Linked DNA regions of Homo sapiens. The protein of the gene in region 6 purifies or fractionates together with the protein of the main gene of each other region. This does not show direct contact. Each region holds a gene or a part of one and is shown on either strand. Other genes may lie near its edges. The genes, in order: PCDH7, PC, NOCT, FREM2, POLE, DTWD2 and DCAF8.

Region 1 (3,500 bases), on a different chromosome or scaffold from region 6:
AGCTTCTACGTGGTTGAGCCTGGAATCACACTGAGCAATACTGGGACTCTAAATCTCCTGCTCTTTTTAAAAGTTCATTGCTCTTTGCAGGAAGGGCCCAGGAATGGTACAGATGATGCCACAGCAAGGATTGATTGATTAGCCAGTGTTCCTATACTCTTCTATTTTGGTTAAATCAAGTGATCCTGTAATAAATTAAAAAACTCTTTGGAAATCTTAATGGCCTTTTTGTGGCCAGAGTGACACTTACTTAGATAACTATAAATTTCTCCTCTTCCAGAAAGTGTTCCTACATTTAGAGGATCACAAACTGCTGGTCTGAGTCAGTGATTCCCGCCCTGACCGTGAACTGTGATGTGTTTGCCTGTCCAGTCTTCCTAAATTCCCCAAACCGGCAAAAGGCAGGGATATTTTAGTTATTTACGTGAAAAAGCCAAGTCCAACTCACTTGTGCATCTTTTGGATCTTGTCTCCTCACCTCCAATCTTTATTAACTATGATAATAATCATCCAAAAAAAAGTTTTGGTTAACCAGCATTTAATTATTTTTTTCTCAGCCCTATCATATAAAATAAAAGTAAACAATTTTCTAACAGGTATTTTAAAATAAAGCATTTATTTAATCATTTGAGTAAAAGATATTTTCATTTAGACTAATGACAGTGAAGGGAATGTTAAAACATTTGTTGTAAAACATTTTTCACTGATCTTTTGTTTTTCTTGTTTACCCTTTTGTAAAACCTTTTGTAAGTCCACCAAATTTCACTAGCATTTAAGTGTGCTTCTAGAAAAAATAAGTCTTTGTGTAGAGGGAAGTCAAGAAACATAGAAAGAAAACCAAACACTTTAAAAAGGAAAAAAGGAAAAAGTTCCTGCATGTGGTTTTGTTTTGTGTTGTTTTGTTATTTTGTCTCTAAAGGAAAGAAATACCAGGCCGGGAGCAGAGGCTCACGCCTGTAATCCCAGCACTTTGGCAGGCTGAGGAGGGCAGATCCCTTGAGATCAGGAGTTCGAGACCAGCCTGGCCAACATGGCCAAACCTCATCTCTACTAAAAATACAAAAAATTAGCCTGGTTTGGTGGTGCATGCCTGTAGTGCCAGCTACTCAGGAGGCTGAGACATGAGAATCGCTTGAACCCAGGAGGCAGAGGTTGCAATGAGCCGAGATCGTGCCACTGCACTCCAGCCTGGATGACAGAGCGAGACCCTTCTCGAAAAATAAAATAAAATAAAACAAAATAAATAAAAAGAAGAAAATACTTCTTATTTTTTTGCAGATTTTGTCAAGTAATGTTAATCATATGCCAGAGCTTGATGTTAATGAACAAATTGGAGGAATGGTGTGGGCATCTGGGAAGTCCATACGTTGACTTAACAATCCGTTTATCTCACATGGCCAGCAAATTAAATAATATGTGAGTTAAACAAATAAATGATACATACAGTTTTACATATCTGATCTTTAAGAAAACTCATTGGAAATATTTTAATACTAAATATAACATGTTCATACCTTCTCTCAGCAAATGCAAAGATCCATGTATCTCTAGCCTCAAGCCAAGGACCTGGAGTAGAGTGAGTGTCTGGGATTCTGACAGGATGCAAAACTCAGCATACTTAAAATCCTTCCTGGTGCAGAACTGTCTTCAAGTCTTAATGAGTCTACTGTGCTCTCCTATAATAATTTTGTCTCTAATGGGTTCTGAATTATGTAAGGCATCTTCTGGAAACATGAAATTCCTCTCTAAACCTGGGCTTTCCTTGTTATTTCTAAAGATTCTATTATCTATCTGTCACTTCTTGTTGAGGTCATTGTAACAGCATCTAGCAGCATCTGCCCACCACCCATCCATCTACCCTGCCTAGTAAAAACAAAAATACTATGTTTTTGAGAGATAATCTGACTTCTTAAGAAAACATATAATTTTCTCCACTTTCCAAAATGTATAGTTTTAGGGAGGTTGTTTCATTCTTTTCACTAAGTAGTAAAATTTGTGACTCTGTGACATCTATTTCCTGTGCTACTCAGATTTTTTTTTCTCTTTCTCTGCAGACTGTAGCTTGTTCAGATGGTTATGAGTAGCAGTCATTGACCTCTAAATAACTCAGCTGTTATATTTTAAGAAGAAGCAATGGGTTGTAGTGGGAAAACAGTAAATTGAAAGTCAAAACACTTATTCTTCGGCTTCAGCTCTCCCGTAGCTTGGACCCGTTCGCTGTTCCATCCTCCTTGCTATATGATTGAGGTGCTAAATTAAAGAGATGAACTTCATGTGGGAAGTACTTCATGTGTTATGAATTGTTCTAAGATTGTTTGCTAGTTTGATGGCTTAAAAACTGTTACTTTCTCCCAGCACTTTGGGAGGCCAAGGCAGGTGGATCATTTGAGGTCAGAAGTTCAAGACCAGCCTGGTCAACATGGTGAAACCCCATTGTATTTTGAAACAATACAAAAATTAGCCAGGTGGTAGTGGTGCGCGCCTATAACTGTAGCTACTCAGGAGGCTGAGGCAGGAGAATCGCTTGAGCCTGAGAGGCAGAGGTTGCGGTGAGGCAAGATTGCACCACTGCACTCCAGTCTGGGCAACAGAGTGAGATCCTGTCTCAAAAAAAAAAAAAAGAAAAGAAAAAAAACTCTACTTTCAAGAGAGATATTAACCTTATGTCTAGGAAAGGATCTTAACTTTCTAATAAGATGCAATGATTCTAGTAAATAGCATAACTTGGTTAAAATGGAAACCTCTACAAGTAATGCTAAGCAAGAACAGGATTTGATGGATACCATTTTTTTACTTCCAGTCTTCTCAAGGTTTGATATGATTGATGGGGTATGCGGGCGTTGAGAAATACAGAAACAACAACAAAAAATTCTCTAAGGAACTGGCTTTATTGTGGAAAATGCTTACAGAGAATACTATTTTATTTTCCTGTTGTTCATTTGTATTGATTTACTCAATGCCAGCTAAGATTTGTGATCAAGTGTCTTCCATCTTCACTGAGATCAAAATTTAAAACAACAGTACTAAAGCATAAAATAATGTTCTTAGATGTTAGAAAAGACATCCTTCAGTGAAAGACTAAGAAGAGTTACTAATTGTGAAAGGCTTTCCTCTATAATGCCACAAAAAAATAGGACAGTTTAAAAGTATGTCTTTTATGGAAAGAAGAAATAATTGCATGTGATGTTTATCTAAGATCCTGCATAAATTTTGTGTTGAAAAAATTCATAATATATGCATGCATAATTAAAATAAGAAAATATGTAAACAAAGAAAAATACTTTTCCACTCATGCCCTTCTTTAATAAGTTGCATCGTAATACAGATTGCATTTGTTAATCATTGGTATTTCTTTGGAAGATTCACTTTAGTCAACCAAATTGGAAGTTTTGATTGCTTGTGATGAATCTCTTATAGCCCTTCTTGATTATTTTTCTAAATTTGATGACAAACATTGCAACATGTCTCAGCCAATTAGGCTTGTCAACTTCCTCTGTGGT
Region 2 (3,500 bases), on a different chromosome or scaffold from region 6:
GTCTCAAAAAAAAAAAAGAAAAAAAAAAACTTAGCCAGGTGTGGTGGCACATGCCTGTAAAATGTGCAGGGGAAGAAGGGCAGGTCCCTTTTTCCCCGTTGTTACCGTGACTGGCAAAGGTTGAGCGTCACCCTCTGGAAACCCGTGTCAAGTGACTTTACAACCAGCTGGCAGAACCACCTCACACCACAGCTGCCTGCTCTCCATGCTGACTCAAGGGGTCTTCTCAGAGACGGCCCAGCCCCAGGGATTCTTCCTGCCCAGCTTCCCAAGCTGACCATACCCTTCCAGAACCAGGGCCTTCTGCTGAGGCTGGCCAGCTGCCAAATGGGGCCAGCAGGGAGCCAGATGTCACTTTCCTGTAAAAATCAGGAGCAACTGGAAACAGACAAGACTGCTTAAACGGATATTATCCACAAATCAGAGCGCAGCCTTTTTTTATTGATTGAGCTTAAGACCTGACATGCCAAACTGCTGGCATCCACAGCTGCTCCTGGTGAAGACCCCCATGCATCCCGCCAGCCTGGATTCAGGCACAGGACTTACCCTTAGTGTTTGGTCAGCTCTCCAGAAGGCAGACACTATCTAAAGCAAAAGAAAAAACAGCATTACCCTCATTGCTCCAGGAACTTCCCAGAGAAAACAGGAGTGGCAAGAACACCGATTTTAGAACCCAGAGAACTTTTTCAGTCTTGTTACCCGGGCTGGAGTGCAATGGCGCAATCCCGGCTCACTGCAACCTCTGCTTCCCGGATTCAAGCGATTCTCCTGCCTCAGCCTCCTGAGGTAGTTGGGATTACAGGCATGTGCCACCACGCCCAGCTAATTTGGTATTTTTAGTAGAGATGGGGGTTTCTCCATGTTGGTCAGGCTGGTCTCGAACTCCCGACCTCAGGTGATCCACCCACCTCGGCCTCCCAAAGTGCTGGGATTACAGGTGTGAGCCACCGCACCCGGCCAAGAACTGTTTCTTTGCTTCCACTGAGGGCACCAGGAGGGTACAGAGCTGGAAGCGCCAGCTGTGCTGTCCCACTGCCTGGACTGCACCTCTTGTTACTCTGACAGCCGCTCTGTAATCACTCAAAGTCTGTTTCCTCATCTGTAAAATGGGAATAATAACAATGCCCATCTCACAGCGTACTAGGGAATACCCAATGAGGCAGCACACGCACAGCAGTGGCACCATGCCTGGCACAGAGGACACACTGGGACGTTAACCGACAGGCTAGGTGGGAAGCGCTTAAGTAAAACCCTTTTCTGCCACCCACTACACATGAACAAGAAGTTCTAGAAACAGTTCGTTTTATCTGAAGTGCTTTCTCTTCCTGCCCACTCCGTCCAGCCTCAGGCCCGCTTTCTCTGCATCTCCGCAGAGCTGTCTCTAATCCTTCAGGAGCTCCCTCTGAATACTGGGAGTCTGGTTCTTCTCTCACTCCACAACTTGAAACTAATAAGGAGCTGTCTTACGTGACCTGAGATGTGTACTCTATTTCCTGGCTATTTCCTCAAATCCTTTCCTGCAGAGACCCCTCTCTGCCATAAGTAAGAGCCCACCTCGTGTTTATGCCCATGGGAGCCCACAGTTGGTATTGTGTAATCACTTTTCGGAGTTTTATTGACTGCTTATTTCCGAAAAAGCCACACCTACCCTAGCCACTAGTCAATGAACAGCAAAATGGAAAAACAGGCCAGCAAGCTCAAATCCCTGTTCAGAGAAAACCAGCTGCCTTGACAGATAACGTCAAGGCTGAAATTCAATGTCTGGGGCACTCAAGTCAATAAAATATTTATTGAGCACATGCCTTGCACAAGGAACTGTATGTACACTCAGGCCCTGCCCACAAAGTGCCAAAAAGCAAGTTGTTAGGGGCTGGTTAAAAGAAGCAAAAATGGGATGGCACGTGAGAGGGACTCCAGCAGTGAGCCACCTAGCCTGCCTGGCTGTGTTACTCTGGGCGTTATTTCACCTCTCTGAGTTTCACCTATGAGAGTCCGTCATTTGTAAGAGATGGATCTAATAGGACCTTCGTAATAGGATTGTTGTGATAATCACATTATGTGTATGTAAGGGGCTTAGCAAGGCCGTCACCACCACACAGTAGTTGACTTTTATTATTAATAACAATAAATCATTACTTATCATCATCGTTATGAAAAGAGAGCCCAGTCCAACTGAATAGATTTGGCAAGCCTTAATAAAGTCCTGTGTCTCGAAGAATAATTTAATTTTGACAGGACAAGATAAGAAGCAAGGCCCTGCAGAAAACAAAGTCAACAAGAACAAGAGCAGAGGGGGGACCGTGAGAAGTGAGTTTGGGGTAACAGTGACTAATCTCACTATGGGGGCTGACACAGAAGAGGGTACCTGCGGAGGCAAATGGAAGAAAGAGCCCAACAGGTGGAATCATATTAGAGAGTCTTGAACGCCAAGATGAAGCAAGCTTTTCATTCGGTAAGTAAGAGGAAATGGTTTATTCTTTTGGCCATTTCCCATCTTCCACCGTCAGGCCCGACTCCTTTGGCAAAGTGTCCACAGGTGAGACTAGAAGGCAGCTAAGAGAAAGAGAGGAAGGCACGGTCAGTCAGGCCCAGGTGAGGTTTCAGAGTGAGCAGGCAAAATGCCCTGCTGCTGTGAAGGAGGCCTCTGGGTGAGAAACCTGCCCCAAAGCAGGAACTTTCAGGATACAAGAAACGGGGCCCATTCAGATGGGGGCAGGACGATATTGGGAGGCAGCCAAAGAGAAGGCCATGCTCATCCTCAATGAAAATGTTGACCAGAGGCCGGGTGCAGTGGCTCACGCCTGTAATCCCAGCACTTTGGGAGGCCAAGGCAGGTGATCACCTGAAGTCAGGAGTTCGAGACCAGCCTGCCCAACATAGTGAAACCCCATCTCTACTAAAGATACAAAAATTAGCCAGGCAAAGGGTTGGTGCCTGTAATCCCAGCTACTCAGGAGGCTGAGGCAGGAGAATCACTTGAATCCGGGAGGCAGAGGCTGCAGTGAGCCAAGATGGTGCCACTGTACTGCAGCCTGGGCAACAAAACAAGACTCCGTCTCCAAAAAAAAAAAAACACAGAAAACGTTGACCTGAACGAGGCCTCCAGCCCATGCAGAAGGTGCCAGTGAGAAATGTGGATTGCCAGATTTACTGCCATACTGACCTTGGTGCTGGCCATCCCTGCCACCTCCAAAAGTAACTCCTTTCCGTATTCCCCATCTTGCACCCTTCTCTCCTCACTGGTTCCCAGTTTGACCCCTTTTCAACTAATTCACCCAAAACACTCATTAGGCACCTACTTGTTCCTGGCACTATTAGGTACTGAGAGGACAGAGGGAAGAGGGACACAGGGAACTGTGGCTTGGGATAAGAGTAGTGAATCTGAGGTCCTGCCCTGCCACTGGTCCCAGAGCCCCCATGAGTGGTGGTGGGAGGACAGGTACCTATCACAGTGCCTGGGGCACTGGAAGTGAGACCGGGTGAAAGCAAGGAGCAGGACA
Region 3 (3,500 bases), on a different chromosome or scaffold from region 6:
AGGTTTTCACTTGAGGTCTCACTCCCTCCGTGGGAAGGCTGATTTTCTCCCATTCTAAGAATAACAATAAATAAAAAGTATCTTAGCTGCTTTCCGTGGAAGTCCAAACAGGTTTACTATGAGGCTAAACGCCCAGGCACACTGTCCTTCAAATTTCTAATTATCTACTGAAGTATAACCACCACTTAAGTGGCTATCAAAGCCCTATAAACTCTAATTAGTGGCCGGGCGTGGTGGCTCACACCTGTAATCCCAGCACTCTGGGAGGCCAAGGCGGGTGTATCACCTGAGGTCAGGAGTTCGAGAGGAGCCTGACCAACATGGTGAAACCCTGTCTCTACTAAATACAAAAAAATTAGCCGGGCATGGTGGCGCATGCCTGTAGTCCCAGCTACTTGGGAGGCTGAGGCAGGAGAATTGCTTGAACCCGGGAGGCACAGGTTGCAGTGAGCCAAGATTGCGCCACTGCACTCCAGCCTGGGCAACAAGAGCAAAACTGTCTAAAAAAAAAAAAAACCAGAAAAACTGTAATTAGTCACCAGTGACTCCTGACAGCAAATACAGACGCTGTATCTCCCTTCCTAACTCCAAGAAGCCAGAACACAATTACCTCACTTTTCTTTTAGTAAACATCATAGAAACCTCATTTTACTCTAAGTTGTGACTTAGAGTGACTACATGGATACACTCCCATTACAACCTCAGTCTCAAGTTTCCTCTCACTGAACTTTCATTAATATGCAAATTTCTTCCCTTTTTTTTTTCTTTGAGAGTAGCTGGGATTACAGGTGCGTGCCACCACGCCCAGCTCATTTTGTATTTTTAGTAGAAATGGGGTTTCTCCATGTTGGTCAGGCTGGTCTCGAACTCCCGACCTCAGGTGATCCGCCTGCCTTGGCCTCCCAAAGTGCTGGGATTACAGGCTTGAGCCACTGTGCCCGGCCCTGGAATTTCTTCCCTTTCTTAAAAGCTGCTTTTGGCGGGGCGTGATGGCTCATGCCTGTAATCTCAGCACTTTTGGATGGCTGAGGCGGGAGGATTGCTTGAGCCCAGGATTTCGAGACCAGCCTGGGCAACACGGCAAAACCCGTCTCGACAAAATATACAATTTTTTAAAGCTGCTTTTTTCGGGGGTCAATGTTCTTTCTCAGGGGTCTCTTGAACTGCCTTAGGCCCCAAGCTCAAAGATCCTTTTTTTTTTTTTTTTTTTGAGACAGAGTATTGCTCCTACTGTCGCCCAGGCTGGAGTGCAATGGCGCAATCTCGGCTCACTGATACCTCCGCCTCCTGGGTTCAAGTGATTCTCCTGCCTCAGTTTCCGAAGCAGCTGGGATGTACAGGTGTGCACCACCACACTTGGCTATTTTTTTTCTAATGTAAGTAGAGACAGGGTTTCACCATGTTGCCCAGGCTGGTCTTGAATGCCTCAGTTCAAGTGATCCGCACCTCGGCCTCCCAAAGTGCTGGGATTACAGGCGTGAACCACTGTGCCCGGCCAGACCAAAGGTCTTAAGGCTCTTCCAGAATCCTCTCCAGAGCTTCTCAAGCTTTCCAGGAATAAGTACCTTTGGGGAAAGGAGGGGCAGAGCTCATAAATACTCCCTAATCTTTTTGGAAGAATCCCCTGAGGCACTTGTTAAATATGCACTCCACCGGGCTTCTCCACAGGAAACTGATCAAGCAGAGGGCTGAAAGGCCAGAAATCTGCATTTTAACAACTGTCCCAAATGATTCTGCCTCTACCCCTTTTCCTAAGATGCTTGCCACAGCTCCTGCATGCGAGCGCCACCTTCTTCCAGGCATTGTGTGTGTGGTCTTCTCTGCCTGCCCCCACCACCCCGCAAACTGTCCCCTTCCAAAACACCCTCCTTTTTCACCTATTAGAAGCAAAGCATTTCTTGACAAATTCAGCCACACTGATTTCTTTCTTCTCAACTCCCACTGCAATTAGTCATGTCACCTTTTACATGTACTATTCAATAAAGCTTGTGGATAAATTGCTATCAATTGATCTTATTCATTTGTTCTAGGTAAAGTCTAGTGTTGAGACAGCAAGCAAGGTTAAATGATTTACAAATGTTAAGTGTGTGGAATGTGAATCTGGAGCCATGGTTATTAACCCCAAAGAACCCCAGTTCACCATGTTTAAACTGTTGCCATTGAATGCTAACAGAAAAATCATACATTAGTTTTCCCACAAGGAAAGCAATTTATTCCATAGCAGCTTGATAATGACAAGCTTTCCCGTTTCTTCTCTCTCATAAGCAGTTTACTCACATAGTTAAAGGACATATTAAATAAAGCTGCCTTCTCAAATGAGCTGGTGGCATTTGCCTATAAATTGTACCATGAAAAAAAGCAAATGTTCTAATGGTAGAGAACAGTAGTTCAGCCAGCTCTTCATTCTCTGAGGAGGAGGGATGTGGAGGATAGCATTTATAAATCCACAGATGACTTCCAACTGCGTTTCATCCAGTACAGTAACTGTGGCAACTGCTACTTCTTAGGGGGGCTGCTATCCTTGAGAAAAGAAAGCCAAACACCGAGATCATCCCTAGGGTCACCTTTTAATTCTAACAACCTGGAATCTGATAACTCCAAAGGGACTGTACTTATCTTCCCAATAACTACCAATTGCCAAGGGGCATAAGTTATGCAGGAACTGATTAGCAAATGTGGACAGCTGTCGGGACTCACTACTCCCCACCACAAGGCTCAGGAGTGGAGAGGAGCTTTTGGCCCCTTCAATGTCTCTCTCACATATGGGTGCCAGATGTCCAAATTTGAGGGCATAGAAGAACAATCTGGAGTTATTCTTTTTGTCATTTCATTTGGTTATGTGGAATCCAGGGCCCATCATGAATGACTCAGACTTAATAGGTCTACAGTAGGATCCAAGAATCTGCATTTTAAAAAAGCACTTCATAGGCTGGGCGCAGTGGCTCACACCTGTAATCCCAGCACTTTGGAAGGCCAAAGCAGGTGGATCACCAGAGCTGGGGAGTTTGAGACGAGCCCGGGCAACACGTTGAAATCCTGTCTCTACTAAATACAAAAATTAGCCCGGCACAGTGGCGTGTGCCTGTAGTCACAGCTGCTCAGGAGGCTGAGACAGGAGAACTGCTTGAGCCTGGGAGGTGGAGGTTGCAGTGAGCAGAGGTGGCGCCACTACACTCCATCCTGGGCAACAGTGCGAGAGAACCTTGTCTCAAAAAAAATAAAAATAAAAATTAAAATTAAAAAGCACTTAGTGCTGGGTCTGAGGCTCTTTGGAAAACAATGTCCATTTTTGCAAAGTGCCTCTTCTCTCACCCTTCCTCATCTGTGTGTGTCTCATGCCTTTCTGCATTTACTCCTGCTTTTTCCAAACAAAACGCTTTATAGTAATCTCTTCCAATCCTAACCATGCTTCAAGAGCCAGCTGAAATGCCACCCATTTCTAGAAGCCCAAAAGGGACTTCCTGCTTTCCTGCACCCTTGTGCCATTTCCAAGTCAAGAG
Region 4 (3,500 bases), on a different chromosome or scaffold from region 6:
TATTTTTGTAAATTCTCCAATGAAAGGATACTACAGTCTATTTTTAAAAAACTGAACATGAAGTGCAGAGCTGCCTAAGAGAAGAAAGGCAACTATTGGACATATGACCTCTCTCTCAGTATCAGTGTTGCTTCCTTATCTTGATCAAGAAATGGTTGATACTTACAGACACCAAATTAAGATGTGCACATCTGTTCTGAGAAGTTTGCCTTTTAAAATTCTGCAGTGACCAAGATGTCCAATGTGGCCAGCTTATGGCTAGAAGTCAAAGGGGATTCTAGCCAGCATCTGAAGGATAATCTGTAGGCATTATTCTTTTTCTCCTGACCTTATTTTTCTTTGAAACATGTTTACTAGCTTTTGGAAAGCTGAAGTTTTCCCCTTCTAAGCGAAATTTCTGCTATTTGGTAACAAACACATTGATGCAGAAAGGCAATGGGAGGCTTGCCAAGGAAGCTCACTCAAGTTCCTTGGCTTTGGGAGGTGAATGGTAAGCACTGTTACAAATTATATTTTTAAATATTGAGAGGGACCACATTGTACCAGTTCACTGAACTGGGGATGCCAGAGCGATGTCTTCTTGAACCAAATAAAAATATGGTCAATGATTCTGGCCACCTCCAAGACCATTTCTGGAATGATAGTTGCAGAGAGTCCCATCGTTTGGACCAGATGCTGGATAGAAAGCTAATAAAATGTCCTGTAGCCAATTTAAGTTCTAAATGTTATTGTGTGATTACGCTACTCCGAGGGATAACCTCATCTGTCAAAATGTTCCTTTATTCTATAAAGTATGTATAAGAGGCACTCTGATTATACACATTATATTAATAAATACCACTTTCTCCCTTCACCATCTGTAACAATGTTTCTTATTATCATTTATGGGTTCAATACTGCAAACATCTAGGCTCAGTTCTTAGAGAACATTGTCTTGTAGTGACTCTAACTCTATGGCATTTATTCATCACCAAAATCTCACCAACCCTCTAATTTCCCACAAATGTTGAGCACCAATAAGGTATATTACCATGCAAGAGCTCTACCATTACTCACTATATGCCAAAACAGAGCAGCATCTCTTAAAAATCTCTTTCAGAATTAACATATTCTTTGGTTTAATTTAAAATTAAATATGCAAACAAAACAAGGAGAGTCTGATGAGAATGAGAAGCAATTCAAATTCAAGTGAGTGAACTTCCTTCCCTCTATCTTTCCTTCCACTGTCTCCCAAGTAGTAGATCAGTTGATTTGTGGGTTGAGCCACCCTGGTCATAATTCTATGCTGTCTTCACCTATTTGAAAACTTGTCATAATAAACAGTGTGTTCACCAGTTTTCCAGACTAGCAACAAAAACCTTTCTAGTAATAATCTGTTATACAATTAATAAACAATGTGATAATTGCACCTTCAACATTCACACTAACATAGCAACAGTAGATTCCTCTTACACTTGTAAGAGAGTCTGTTAGCACCTTTTAATAGATTTATCTCCACTGCATAGAGAATATGTCTAAAATGAGGAGTACATTCCTCACATCATGGCTCTGTGTACATATGAGTACGTTGTTGCTGCCTTTGGGGCAAGAGGAAAGATGCCTTAATTTGTCCTTTGATGCAAAAAAGAGTATGGAGAATTCAAATCAAACTCCATTAGTACAGTCATATTCTCTAAGCAGCTTCATCACAGCCATCCTCCATTCTCTATGGTTTACCAGAAGTATTTAAGGTTCCATTGTGATCTTTTCCGAGGCACTTACGGAAAAGGTTGAATTCTACCTGCAGTCATCAAACTTCTGAGCTGTCATTGTGATGGCTCTGTGGGGGCACCATGGGCTCACTGCTGCTGGAGCCTTTCGGGGCATCCTTCCCCCTGAAACTTTCCTTGCCCCTGCACATCAGCACTGCAATGACAGTGAGGCAGATGGTGAGTAACCCTACCGTGGTGCCTCCCACCACAGTGACCAGGCTGACTGCAGAGCTGGGGCTGTTGAGCTCCCAGGGGAGGATGCCATCTGGAGGTGCTCTCCCATGGGGGATCTGCCTCTTGGTGCGGTCCAGGGCAATGTGCTGGATGTTTGTTCCTCGACTGTTTTCAGCACCAATCTCCCATGCCAGTGAGGGTGTGCTCCTGATCTCTCTCTTCTTCCGGCTCTTGGTGGTGGATTGGGGCTTTCCTTGACTCACCAGAGAATGGTACTCCACACTTCTTTTGCCAATACCTCGATTGGCATTGTCTTTCGATCTCACTGTATAGATCGTATGTATATACCATTCTCGGCCTAGAGCGACCTAGAAAGCACAACTCTATTTATTAGGAAATACTAGATACCATGTCAATCTAATCCACGACTCTTTGCAAGAGAAATTAATGGCAGAGATATTAATAAATGATTTTAGTCTGCAGAATTAACTTACTTAATATTTTTGAATGAGTACTAGGTGCAAGGCTCTGTGCAAAGCACTCTGTGATATATCCTGTGCAACTCTTAAGGGAGTGAATATGTGATACTTGTTGTCATAGAATGAGAGAGTTCTAAAGAACTATTAATAGATTATACAGTCTAGCTTATTCACTAAAAAAATGAGTAAATTAGAATATGCAGCAGTTAAGTGAGTTGCCCAATGTTACTCAACCAGTTAGTGGCAGAGGCAGGACTACAGCTCAAATCTTCTGAACCCCAGGACTCTTTTCACTGTGTCTTGCTGCTTATTGCATATAAGACCATAGGGGGAAAAAATCAATTTTCAAGCTTTTCTGGGGCTTTGGAAAAGGATGAATTTTCTGATGAGTCTTTGAAGCATGCAAGATTTAGGAAGGTCAGATGCTTTGAGATTTAATGGCAAAAATAAAAATAAAACATATCATACTTCAACTTCTTGTTTGAAAAGATTGAGAATAACAAACATGCTTTCTTAAGATCCTTCCTTAGGTTGAATGAAAATAACACATTTCTCCAGGCCATCCTGTCGGGTTAATTTTCAGTAAATATCCTAAAAGCCGCACTTGCTTCGGCAGAGATTTGCAGTGTAAGCACCTCTTGAAATTTGTGGCATTTGCTCAGTGTTGTGGCAGCTGCCTGTGTTTCCCTCCACCTTTGATCCCTGAGTCAGGAATTTGTATCTTGGTTTCTGAAATCTTTGAGAGTGGAGCTGTGCACAATTGCTTTCCTGAGTTCAGCAGTTCACACAAGATCACTCTAATTAAGATATTGGTGAAAAGTCAGCAGGAAGGAAGTTTTGAATAAGAAAAGCAGATTACTCAACTGTCAGACACAGATTTATATTCTGGGCTAAATAAGACTCTTCATTACACATAGTCTTAAAATAATATTAATACATTAATAAAAGTGATAAGAGCTATGAAAGCCAGATATATTGCTAACAAAAATAATAAACGCTGGGTTTATGGAGTGCTCACCATATGCCCAGCATAGGGTTATGTAGTTTATTTGCCATATCTTATTCAATGTTCCCATTAACTGTATGCAATATTACT
Region 5 (3,500 bases), on a different chromosome or scaffold from region 6:
GGAGCCGAATGTGGAGATGTCCTCTGGTAGGTTCCCAATGGGAATGTGAAAGTACCTGCACCAGGGCACAGGTCAGCACCGGGGCACATCGCCGGGTCACAGAGACCACCGAGGCCGGCTCTGCCTGGGGACCACTGGCCCACAACGACAGTACTGTGCTCACCTGCTCATCTCGAAGGCCTGCGACAGGCAGGTGTCCAGGTTGAGGTAGTGACGGATCATGCGCCGGGCTCCATGGCGCTGCCAGTCCAGGACCCCATAGTTGATCTTGTCAGCCACACAGATAGGCACCAGTGGGAATTCCTCCAAGACAGGAATTTCACTGGCCAGCCTCTTCAGCTCCCAGCTGGACTGAACAGCGATGAGTGTGGGCCCCCGGCGCTCCTCCTGGGTCAAGGCAAAATGGAAGAAAAGACCTGGGTGGACCCAGCCTCAAAGAAGATGGGGCTCACACAGCAAGACCCCAACCACTCTCACCTTGTAGGCGAGCAGGAATCGCTGGATGGCTCTGCAGATGGTCTTCAGGTCAGTTTCTGCCCGAACTTCGAAGGTGTGTTTGGGGGGTGGCAGGAGCTCAGGGCCCACCTTCTCCAGGAGGAGGCCGTGCTCTGCTGAGTACAGGGCGCCAAGGCTGGGCATCTGGTTGCTGCGCACCTAGACCAACGCAGGCCACGTCAGCCTCCCCCTGCGCAGGAGGAAGTGGGGGCAGCCCTGGGGCAGACTCCACCACTGCCACGGCACTGCCAATTCAATCACGACAAGCACTCATGGGCAAAGGCCCTTGAGGACAAGACCTGGAGGGCCTGGGCACCCTGGGAGATGTCCTCCTTCCCCAAACCCTGCCCCAGCCAATGTGCTGCCATGGAGGGCCCAGGACTCACAGTGTCCAGCACAAAGACGGATGCCCTGCGCTGTGAGGGGATGAAGATCCCGAAGAGCGCTTTGTGGGCCTGTGCGTGGTGGTACAGGTAGATATGGCGGATACTCCCTGGAGAAGGAAACAAGACCGTCACCCCAGATGTGTGGGAGGCAGGCACATGATGGGCGGCTGGTGCAGGCCATACCTGGTTCCAGGTAGCTGAACTGGGCCAGAGAGCGCATCTCCAGGTGCTCAAGAGCAAAGGTCTCTGCTTCCCAGCCTGAAAGGTGCCTCACCAGCTGTTTATTGACCACACACACACAGCCCAGGTGCACCAGGGCCCGGAACAGTAACGGAACCTGGAAGAATCGGGCAGACAGGCCGGCAAGGGCTGGATGGTGGGGGCTCTGGCTGCCCACGTGACTTCTGCCCGGGATGTGGCTGTGCCCCTGCAGCTGCCCGGCCCACTGCCCAAAGGCCACTTTTGGCAGACACACTGCTGACATTCACCTCACCTGTGGGAACGAGTCCACTGTCGCTGCTGTTCCCCAGCCCACACCCTGGGCGGGTTTCTTTCCTCCATACCACCCTGCTGGAGCCTCCCCCAGTTCAGTCGAGGGTGGCTGGGGAGTCACCTGAGTCTCATATACGCCCTCGATGTCTGGCGCTGACAGCTCAGCGTTGATCTCGTTGATGTGTTCCTGGTACATGTCCTCTGGCACTGAATACTCATAGAGATTGTAGACCATGTTGGAGCGAGGAAGGACCCGATTTACCTGGCGAGAATACGACGATGATCTCGTCACTGGGCGTAAGTGGTAATGTCTGTGGTACACACACAAAGCACACGCTATTCGGAGTCCTAGACTTCTGGTGCCCCTAGCGACGGGGTACACCCACCACGCCACAGTCCACCTCTCTCAATGATTACAACTAAAAACTCTGGATGTAATTTTTATGTTATTTATTTATTTTTTACAGACAGGGTCTTAGTCTGTTGCCCAGGCTGGAGTGCAGCAGTGTGATCACAGCTCACTGCAGCCTCCAACTCCTGGGCTCAAGTGGTCCTCCAGCCTCAGCCTCCTGAGTAGCTGGGACAAGGAACACACCACCACGGATGGCTTTTTTTTTTTTTTTTTTTTTTTGTAGAAAGGAGGTCTCACTATGAGGCCCAGGCTGGTCTCAAACTCCTGGACTCAAGTGATCCTCCCAAATCGCTGGAACTGCAGGTGTGAGCCACTATGCCTGGCCTCTGGACGCAATTTTGAAAAGCAACCTGCAGCCTCTGAGAATAGACAAGAGCTGTCAGAATACAGCAGTCAACACTGATCTGGGGAGGTTCCCAGTTCATCTTCCTCCATTCTCTCATGGGTTTAACCTGAGGGTGTAGATGGCAAAAACTGAGAGAAATCACATTTTCCTAGTCAGAGAAACGGAAAGAGAGCCCCTGGGGGAGCCAGAGTGTGTGTGTGGGGTCCTGGGGGGCTCTGGGAGAGCTGGAGAGGGGCACCCTAGCTTCGTGAATGGGGTCCTGGAGGGGTCTGGGAGAGCTGGAGAGGGGGCACCCTAGCTCCCTGTGTGGGGTCCTGGGGGGGTCTGGGAGAGCTGGAGAGGGGCACCCTAGCTCCCTGTGTGGGGTCCTGGGGGGGTCTGGGAGAGCTGGAGAGGGGGCACCCTAGCTCCCTGTGTGGGGTCCTGGGGGGGTCTGGGAGAGCTGGAGAGGGGCACCCTAGCTTCCTGTGTGGGGTCCTGGGGGGGTCTGGGAGAGCTGGAGAGGGGCACCCTAGCTTCGTGAATGGGGTCCTGGGGGGGCCTGGGAAAGCTGGAGAGGGGGCACCCTAGCTTCCTGTGTGGGGTCCTGGGGGGGTCTGGGAGAGCTGGAGAGGGGCACCCTAGCTCCCTGTGTGGGGTCCTGGGGGGGTCTGGGAGAGCTGGAGAGGGGGCACCCTAGCTTCCTGTGTGGGGTCCTGGGGGGTCTGGGAGAGCTGGAGAGGGTGCACCCTAGCTTCCTGTGTGGGGTCCTGGGGGGTCTGGGAGAGCTGAAGAGGGGGCACCCTAGCTCCCTGTGTGGAGGGCTGGGGGAATTCTGGAGAGGCGAGCTGGAGAGGGGTACCCTAGCTCCCTGTGTGGAGGGCTGGGGGAATCCTGGAGAGGAGAGCTGGAGAGGGGGCACCCTAGCTTCGTGTGTGGGGGGCTGGGGGAATCCTGGAGAGGAGCACCCTAGCTTCATGCATGAACCAGCAGCACAAGTCCCAGGCTCACTACGAGCTGCACTTGCACAGGTGACCCAAAACAACGCAGCAGAGGCTCTGGAGGCTGAGCTGACATTGGAAGCTTTGCACAAAGAGGCAAGGAAGAGCTTGGGCACTGGAATTAACCGTGTTGGTTGTTGCTAAAACAAACAAACAAAAAAACCTGACACGCTAAAGGATTTTTAAAAATACCCAAAGTCTCAAATATGTAAAATGTCCAGGTTGCAATAAAGCGTTATTTGGCGTAACAACAACCAGGAAAATCTGAATAATTCTCAAGCGAGAAGAGAACCAGTAGGGTTAGATTTTTCCAGTAACATGAAATTAGACCGACACACACACACACCCACACACACACACACAAAATCAAAGAAATGAAAAATTATGTT
Region 6 (3,500 bases):
TACTTACAACTGTTTAATGAGAACAGGTGACTAGAGAAGCATTTTATACCACAGATGATTAAATGGACTCACCTTGTTAAGAGGTCAGGAAAAAATAAGTAAAAAACAAGTACAGTGAGTTAACAGGTCAGTAAAGTAATTTGGAAAACTATACATACTTCAAGAAAATTTTATACATTTCCAAAAACACTAAATTTTAAGCTTTTTAAGTCTTCAAAAATACTCTAAAATGTTTTATTTAAAAGATAAAAGTAGAAATTACTCTTAAAAATCAATAAAGTAAAATTTTGAGATACAAAATGGTATACTGGGGGTAGGGGGAGTTTTCTTTTTAAAAAATAATAATGATGGCTGGGCACGGTCCCAGCACTTTTGGAGGCCAAGGCAGACAGATCACGAGGTCAGGAGATCGAGACCATCCTGGCTAATACGGTGAAACCCCATCTCTACTAAAAATACAAAAAATTAGCCGGGCGTGGTGGTGGGCACCTGTAGTCCCAGCTACTCAGGAGGCTGAGGCAGAAGAATGGCGTGAACCCAGGAGGCAGAGCTTTCAGTGAGCCAAGATTGCGCCACTGCACTCCAGCCTGGGCGACAGAGCGAGATTCCATCTCAAATAATAATAATAATAATAATAATGACTAAAAGAAACTCATGAAGTTTAATATCAATGTGAAAAATTACTACAAAATGATTTTAGCCCCACTTGTTAAGAAACTATTATACATTATTATATGCTGTTTCTTTTCTAGTACACCAAATAATCATTTGATATTAAGTGCTTTACATTGTAAATGAGCTAGTTTGTTTATTTATTTATTTATTTTAGACAGGTCTCACTCTGTAGCCCAGGCTGGAGTGCAGTGGAATGAACATAGCTCCTTGCAACCTTGATGTCCTGGGCTCCAGCGATCCTCCCACCTTAGCCTCCCAAGTAGCTAGGACTACAAGTGCACACCACCACATCTGGCTAATTATTTTTTTTTTAATTTTGTATGGAGATGGAGTCTCACCATATTGCCCAGGCTGGTCTCAAACTCCTGGGCTCAAGCAATTCTCACATCTCAGCCTCCCAAAGTGCTGGGATTACAGGTGTGAGCTAATGGGCCCAGCCCTAATTTGTTTTTAAATCCAAAAATAAATCAACAATAGAAGCCAGCACTCTTTTAATATTTTAAAATATTTTCTGCATAGTTTCCCCAAATATTAGCATTCTAATTGTGACCAGCATTATACCTTTTAATGAGTCTAATCCAAGTAAATAATAAACAAATGATCATGAAAACTGTGAGAAATAATCATTGGTGTATGCTCTATAAATAGTTACCAAGTTTACCTTTAAATGGCATGTTTAGTTTTTCCTTACAACTTAACACTAGATACAGGAAACTCTAGAACTCATAAACAAAGACTAAACAAAATCCCCTCTTCCTGCCAAAATGTGTACATAATTGCAGTAGACTTGTGCTGAATATACATATATGTTACATACATGTCTCTTATTCTATACAAAATCTCAGCAAATATTTTCCCACAGAGCAGGAAGAATTTTTTCTCTCAAATGGAAAGTTTTTGCTCGTTAAAAAGGTTATATTAAATAGCCCTAAAGAAATATGTTCTGAAAATAACAATTGTATCATATTCCACTTATTATTTTCCATATGAAAACATCAATAAAATAAGTTTACCAGAGTCAATAAGCCTGTTCAATGAACACTGAAAAATACAAATTTATCCAGAGTGATTACAAATGAAAATGTGTGCTATTTCAAAATTACATGCACCTCTTTAAAAATCAGGGCAATTAATAGAGCGCTTAAATCATATTAGCTGAGTTCAAATTTGGCCCCTAAACAATACTTAAAATTTCCTTATTCCTTTATACTATTTTACAAAATAATAAATTACTTGATTATCATAATTTTCTTTTGCTACTTATTTCAAACTGTAAAGTCAGGACTGCAAACTGATGTAGGAATCTTATATTATTGGTCTACACCTAATTATTTATAAACATTAATGGACACAACACCGTTCCAATCCACTACAACAATTTTCTTCTATTTTACAAGTAAGAACTTCTAACCTATCACAACAACAAATCATATTTTAAATTTGGGTTTGAAAACATGTATTAGAGGCACATTTTTAAAAACAAGTACAGTAGGAAATCCTGCTTTTCAGTGAGCCAGTGAATTTCTGTTTATTTGTATTTATGAATATTTGGTTTACTTCCTTCTTCTGGGTAAGATTAGTATGCAATTCTCCTTCTTTAGCAAGTCAAAAACCTACAGACCTTAACTATATGAAAACTTAATTTGGTATTGTTAGATGAAGACAGTTAAGCTAGCACCAAAAGAATAACTGTACTAAATTTTAACACTATTCATTAACAATTCCATTTTCCTGAGTTTGCGTTTGTTCTTTGGCATTGGTTTAGGATATAATCCATTTTTCAGAAGGTGTTCCTTGCTGAGGCGAATTTGGGCACCATGCTGAAGTTGAAAGGAGCATAAAGCTTGAAGAGGGCGAAGCAAAGTCTGTCAAGAGAAAAAAGACACTAAAAAAGTATCTGTGACAAATCATGATATTCTATCTATATTTTTCATTCAGAAATAGGAGTTACTATGTTTCTTTTATTATGATTGGCTTTTAACTATGAGAAACACTAGGCACTCTGATAAATATATAATTATTTCTAGATAAATAATGTCTTTAAAATTCATGCCTTAATATTACACTAAGGAATTTTATTAAAAAGATACAAATACTGATTTTCCACATAGGTAATAAAGTCTGGCATTAGTTTTATACATTATTCAAACACCACAAAAAATTGTTGCCATTATAATTGAATCCATAACAAGGAGACTAAATGAGACATTTAAATACAAAGATAAGTACACCAAAATAGTCAATTCAGTTTCTATGACAAATTAATGCAAGCTTACTGACACCTGACAACAATTAGATGATGGCAGCAATGGGTAAACGGTTTGCTATTTCTCTCACATTAGTGCCATGGACCACATACAAGTTAGATGCCCAGGTCTTGGTGCGTTTGAAATTATTCTAACAATATCTGAACTGTCTAAATTCAAATACCTATAGGCCAGCCATGTAACAGAAACACGTAAACTGGGTGGATCTTTACAAGCCAACAGAGAATAGTGGCGGCTGTAATACAACTGGAGTATACGCTCTACCTGAAGTTATTCAAATTCAAAAATTAAAAAAAAAACAACACTATGCCAGTGTTTTAAACATATTTTGGGTGAGATTCCTTCCTTGGGCCTGAGACCCCTGATGAAGATATTTTCAAAAATAACAGCAAAAAAACTTAATTAAACAGATTGTTAAAGGAGCACAAAAGAAACAAAGAAAAAACTGATAGATTTAACTACAAAAAATTCACAATGTCTACGTGAAAATGTATTAACCCACAAAGAAAACCCCACATGAATTAACAAATGTAGTAAGGGTTCTCTTACATGCGGCCA
Region 7 (3,500 bases), on a different chromosome or scaffold from region 6:
CTGCCAAGAACAAGAACATAGCAGTGAAGGCAAAGGCTGAAAAAAGCAGGGACCAGGAGGTGGGGGTTGGGGTGGGGCTTCTTGCCAGTAGTGCCCCCTCCAAATACCCAGGTGTAGCACCCATCTTATTTGGAACACCAGGCAAGTCCGACTGTACAGGGTAGACTAAGAACACACTGCCAACCCAGGGGCAGCAGAATGCTCAAAAAGGTCATACCCATTAACTCAGGAATGAGTCAAAGGCATAAGAACCTGCTCAGGCAAGCAACCTGGGCTTCAGGACAGGCCCTGCCAAATATCATCTGCAGCATTCTGCAAATGGTACCTGGCATCTCCAAGGGTCATCTACTGTATCCTCCCGCTATGTGCTCACCATCAGCAGTTACTCCCCAGCTGCTCTACTTGGAGCTATAGCACAGTGGTGAGCACTGGAGGGCACATGCCTCACTGGCTCAGCAGCTCCCTAGACAGAGGGGGCATGCCAGCCTAGGAGCTGGGCCCTGCTCACGTACCTGTGCCGTCGTGGCTGTACACAAGACAGGTGATGTTTGCTTTGGACTCACTGTTCACCTGCAATAAGGAGCAGATACTGACTGATGCCCCACCCCCCCATTTGTTATACCATCTTCAGGAAACAGCTTTTCCTTCAAACTCCCCTATATCTTCTCCCAGAGATTTGAGAAAGACAGACAGAGACAAGAGTACAACTGATGAAACATGACCACCTCAGGGGGTAGCATCTTGGGGCTTTCTTTTGGTTGTCATCCATGTGCTAGCCATTTTATGTACACTGTCTCATTAGGCCTCACCATCAAGGTGCAAGGCAGTTATTTTTATTTCTATTTTGTCGATTAAAAAACTGAGGCTATCAGAAGTGAAGTGACTGCCAAGATCACAAAGCTGGTAAGTGGTAAAGCCAGGATTCAAATCCAGATGACTGACTTGAAAGTCCAAGCTCTTCCCACCATACCAACAAGTTCAGGTGCAGCCTTGGGGTTGAGTCAGGGAAGCCTGCAGCAACTGGCCCTTCATGAATCTTACCAGGTGATGAGGACAGAACTTCTTGAGTACTCCATTGTTCTCATTCTCATCAATTTTCCTCTGGTCATAAATCCTACAGTTGGAAAAGCAATGAAAATGTAAAAATGTACAAACGAAACCCTTGAAGAGCTGCAATTTGATGTAGTGGCAGGAAACTGCCAGCTGGATGCAGATAAACAACATTTTCCAAACCAAGCTTTTGGTTTGTGCTCTTCCTTAAAGGGCATCCCTTTTCCAATCCATTTCCAAACCCTAAATCTTTTGTTTGTTTGAGATGGGGTCCTGCTCTGTCACCCAGGCTGTAGTGCAGTGGCATGACCCCGGCTCACTGCAACCTCCGCCTCATGGGTTCAAGCAATTCTCTTGCCTCAGCCTCCTAAATAGCTGGGACTATGGGCACACACCACCACGCCCGGCCAATTTTTGTATTTTTAGTAGAGACAGAGTTTCATCTGTTGGCCAGGCAAACCCTTAAATCCTTTATCCACATACTTCCCATTTTAAGTGGCAATCCTCAATTCTGTCAGTTTGAAGTGGTTTATCTCTCTCCTCAAGTTTTATATCACATACTGCTACTTTTCACTGAAACAACTAACATTAGTATGGAGCTTTTTACATGTACATTACCTACCGAAAAAGGTTACTCACGGGCAGAAACCATGCTTAATGTAAGTCAATGGGTCTGTAATCCCTCCTTAAAACTGTATTTGGCCTGTTCTCCCTCTCATACCCCACAATAATTATTAAAAACTACCACCCATATCCTCAAGACTCCCTCTCCTTTCCTCATTCTTATCAAGCACACTACACCTTCACCTTCCTTCCTCTCTCTAATCCAAGCTTTAAACTCATGAGGACACACATATTATGTGTCAAATATTATGCTAGGTGCTAGAAATACAGTGAGGAACAAGACAGATCCAGTATCTGTTCTCACCCAGTCTCCTCCAATCTCAGAGCCAATCTCTTGAAAAATGCTTTTCATTTCATCCTTCCAGGGACCTTGTTTGATGATTATCTAATTTCTCAACCTCTTCCTCATCACCAGCTGGCCACTTTCTAAAAATCCTTCTGCTGACTGTCCTTTCCTACTATTGCTTTTTTTCTCCTTCCCCTTACAGTTACACTACTGAAAAGAACAATCAACATTCAATATTTCCACTTTCTTACTTCCTATTCACTTCTCAGTCCATCCTAATCTGGTTTTGGTTCTCAACTCACCACTGAGACTTCTCTGGCTGAAGTCATCAGTTAATTATATCCATTTGTTAAGTAGGTGTAAGTCTAGAGTTCAGAATAAGTGTGGTCTGCAGACACAGATGTAAGTCATATATCCGTGTGAAAGGTGGTAGTTAAAGCATTGGTAATGGAATTAGATCTCCAAGGGAAAATACAGAGAAGATTTTCCCTTCGCCCTTTAGAATCTCTGGCCTGTTTCAGAATATAATGAAAACTCTAGTCCCTTCTCCCCAGAAAAATGCACATAAGCATACTTTCTGGAGGTTCACATAATATTTGTACTTCAAGTTAAAATTCCCTGGTATAGAGTAAGATGAGAGCTGAAGACTGAGCTACTGGAGAACATCAGCATTTAATGGGTGGAGAAAGGAAGACACACCCATGAACAACACTGAGGAGTGGTTGGACATCAAGGAGAGAAGGTGCTTCAGGGAAGGAGTAATAATGTCAAGAGTAGAGAAAAAGACTTGAAAAGTACTTTGTTTGCTTTGGCAGTTAGGTTACTGATGACTTAAGCCTTGACATCCCCAGCTCACACGATCCTCCCGCCTCAACCTGCCGCGTAGCTGGGACTACAGGCACACACCACCATGCTGAGCTAATATTTTTATTTTTTGGTGGAGACAGCATCTGCCCAGCTTGGTCTCAAACTCCTGGCCTCAAAAGATTCTCCTGCCTCAGCCTCCCAAAGTGCTGGGATTACAGGTATAAGCCACTACACCCCAACTAAGTGTTTATTAATAGCTTACTATATTCTACATATGATGCTAGAACGGAGTTTGGCAAACTTTTTCTTAAAGGACAAGACAGTAAATGTTTTAAGCTGGTAAACTGGCAAACCATCTAATCTCTATTAAAACTATTGAATTCTGCCATTGTAGCATGAAAGTGGTCATAAACAACATGTAAAGTAAGGCCATGGCTGTGTTCCAATAAAACTTTATTTATAAAAACAAGCACTACAGTTTGTCAAGCCCTGTGATAGACAGTAAGCATAGAAAGATTAATACAAACTTTCCTACCACTTTCTGAACATATGATAGGCCCTTGATAGTTTATATTTTACTTTTAGTTATTTTTTTTGAGACAGGGTCTCACTCTGTCATCCAGGATGGAGTGCAGTGGTGTAATCACAGCTCACTGTAGCCTCAAACTCCTGGGCTCAAGAGATCCTCCTCTGCCTCCCAAGTAGTTGGGACTACAGGAGCATACCACCACAC

The links.
Region 1: the proteins of DTWD2 (region 6) and PCDH7 purify together in Homo sapiens (affinity purification with mass spectrometry, with the first as the bait; one large-scale study listed by BioGRID). This does not show direct contact.
Region 2: the proteins of DTWD2 (region 6) and PC purify together in Homo sapiens (affinity purification with mass spectrometry, with the first as the bait; one large-scale study listed by BioGRID). This does not show direct contact.
Region 3: the proteins of DTWD2 (region 6) and NOCT purify together in Homo sapiens (affinity purification with mass spectrometry; one large-scale study listed by BioGRID and IntAct). This does not show direct contact.
Region 4: the proteins of DTWD2 (region 6) and FREM2 purify together in Homo sapiens (affinity purification with mass spectrometry, with the first as the bait; one large-scale study listed by BioGRID). This does not show direct contact.
Region 5: the proteins of DTWD2 (region 6) and POLE purify together in Homo sapiens (affinity purification with mass spectrometry, with the first as the bait; one large-scale study listed by BioGRID). This does not show direct contact.
Region 7: the proteins of DTWD2 (region 6) and DCAF8 purify together in Homo sapiens (co-immunoprecipitation; one large-scale study listed by IntAct). This does not show direct contact.

What each region holds. Positions count from the first base shown.
Region 1 is NC_000004.12:31,136,369-31,139,868, forward strand, and holds part of PCDH7 (protocadherin-7 isoform d precursor), read left to right. Parts: intron 1-3,500.
Region 2 is NC_000011.10:66,951,884-66,955,383, forward strand, and holds part of PC (pyruvate carboxylase, mitochondrial precursor), read right to left. Parts: intron 2,554-3,500; 5' UTR 2,366-2,553; intron 586-2,365; 5' UTR 547-585; intron 1-546. UniProt on the Homo sapiens protein: Pyruvate carboxylase catalyzes a 2-step reaction, involving the ATP-dependent carboxylation of the covalently attached biotin in the first step and the transfer of the carboxyl group to pyruvate in the second.
Region 3 is NC_000004.12:139,018,781-139,022,280, reverse strand, and holds part of NOCT (nocturnin), read right to left. Parts: intron 1-3,500. UniProt on the Homo sapiens protein: Phosphatase which catalyzes the conversion of NADP(+) to NAD(+) and of NADPH to NADH. Shows a small preference for NADPH over NADP(+). Represses translation and promotes degradation of target mRNA molecules.
Region 4 is NC_000013.11:38,879,077-38,882,576, reverse strand, and holds part of FREM2 (FRAS1-related extracellular matrix protein 2 precursor), read right to left. Parts: intron 2,294-3,500; coding exon 1,790-2,293; 3' UTR 1-1,789. UniProt on the Homo sapiens protein: Extracellular matrix protein required for maintenance of the integrity of the skin epithelium and for maintenance of renal epithelia. Required for epidermal adhesion. Involved in the development of eyelids and the anterior segment of the eyeballs.
Region 5 is NC_000012.12:132,642,343-132,645,842, forward strand, and holds part of POLE (DNA polymerase epsilon catalytic subunit A), read right to left. Parts: intron 1,685-3,500; exon of another isoform or gene 1,636-1,684; coding exon 1,495-1,635; intron 1,219-1,494; coding exon 1,065-1,218; intron 989-1,064; coding exon 882-988; intron 655-881; coding exon 478-654; intron 388-477; coding exon 164-387; intron 56-163; coding exon 1-55. UniProt on the Homo sapiens protein: Catalytic component of the DNA polymerase epsilon complex. Participates in chromosomal DNA replication.
Region 6 is NC_000005.10:118,838,548-118,842,047, forward strand, and holds part of DTWD2 (tRNA-uridine aminocarboxypropyltransferase 2), read right to left. Parts: intron 2,541-3,500; coding exon 2,370-2,540; 3' UTR 1-2,369.
Region 7 is NC_000001.11:160,224,550-160,228,049, forward strand, and holds part of DCAF8 (DDB1- and CUL4-associated factor 8), read right to left. Parts: intron 1,115-3,500; coding exon 1,042-1,114; intron 571-1,041; coding exon 513-570; intron 1-512. UniProt on the Homo sapiens protein: May function as a substrate receptor for CUL4-DDB1 E3 ubiquitin-protein ligase complex.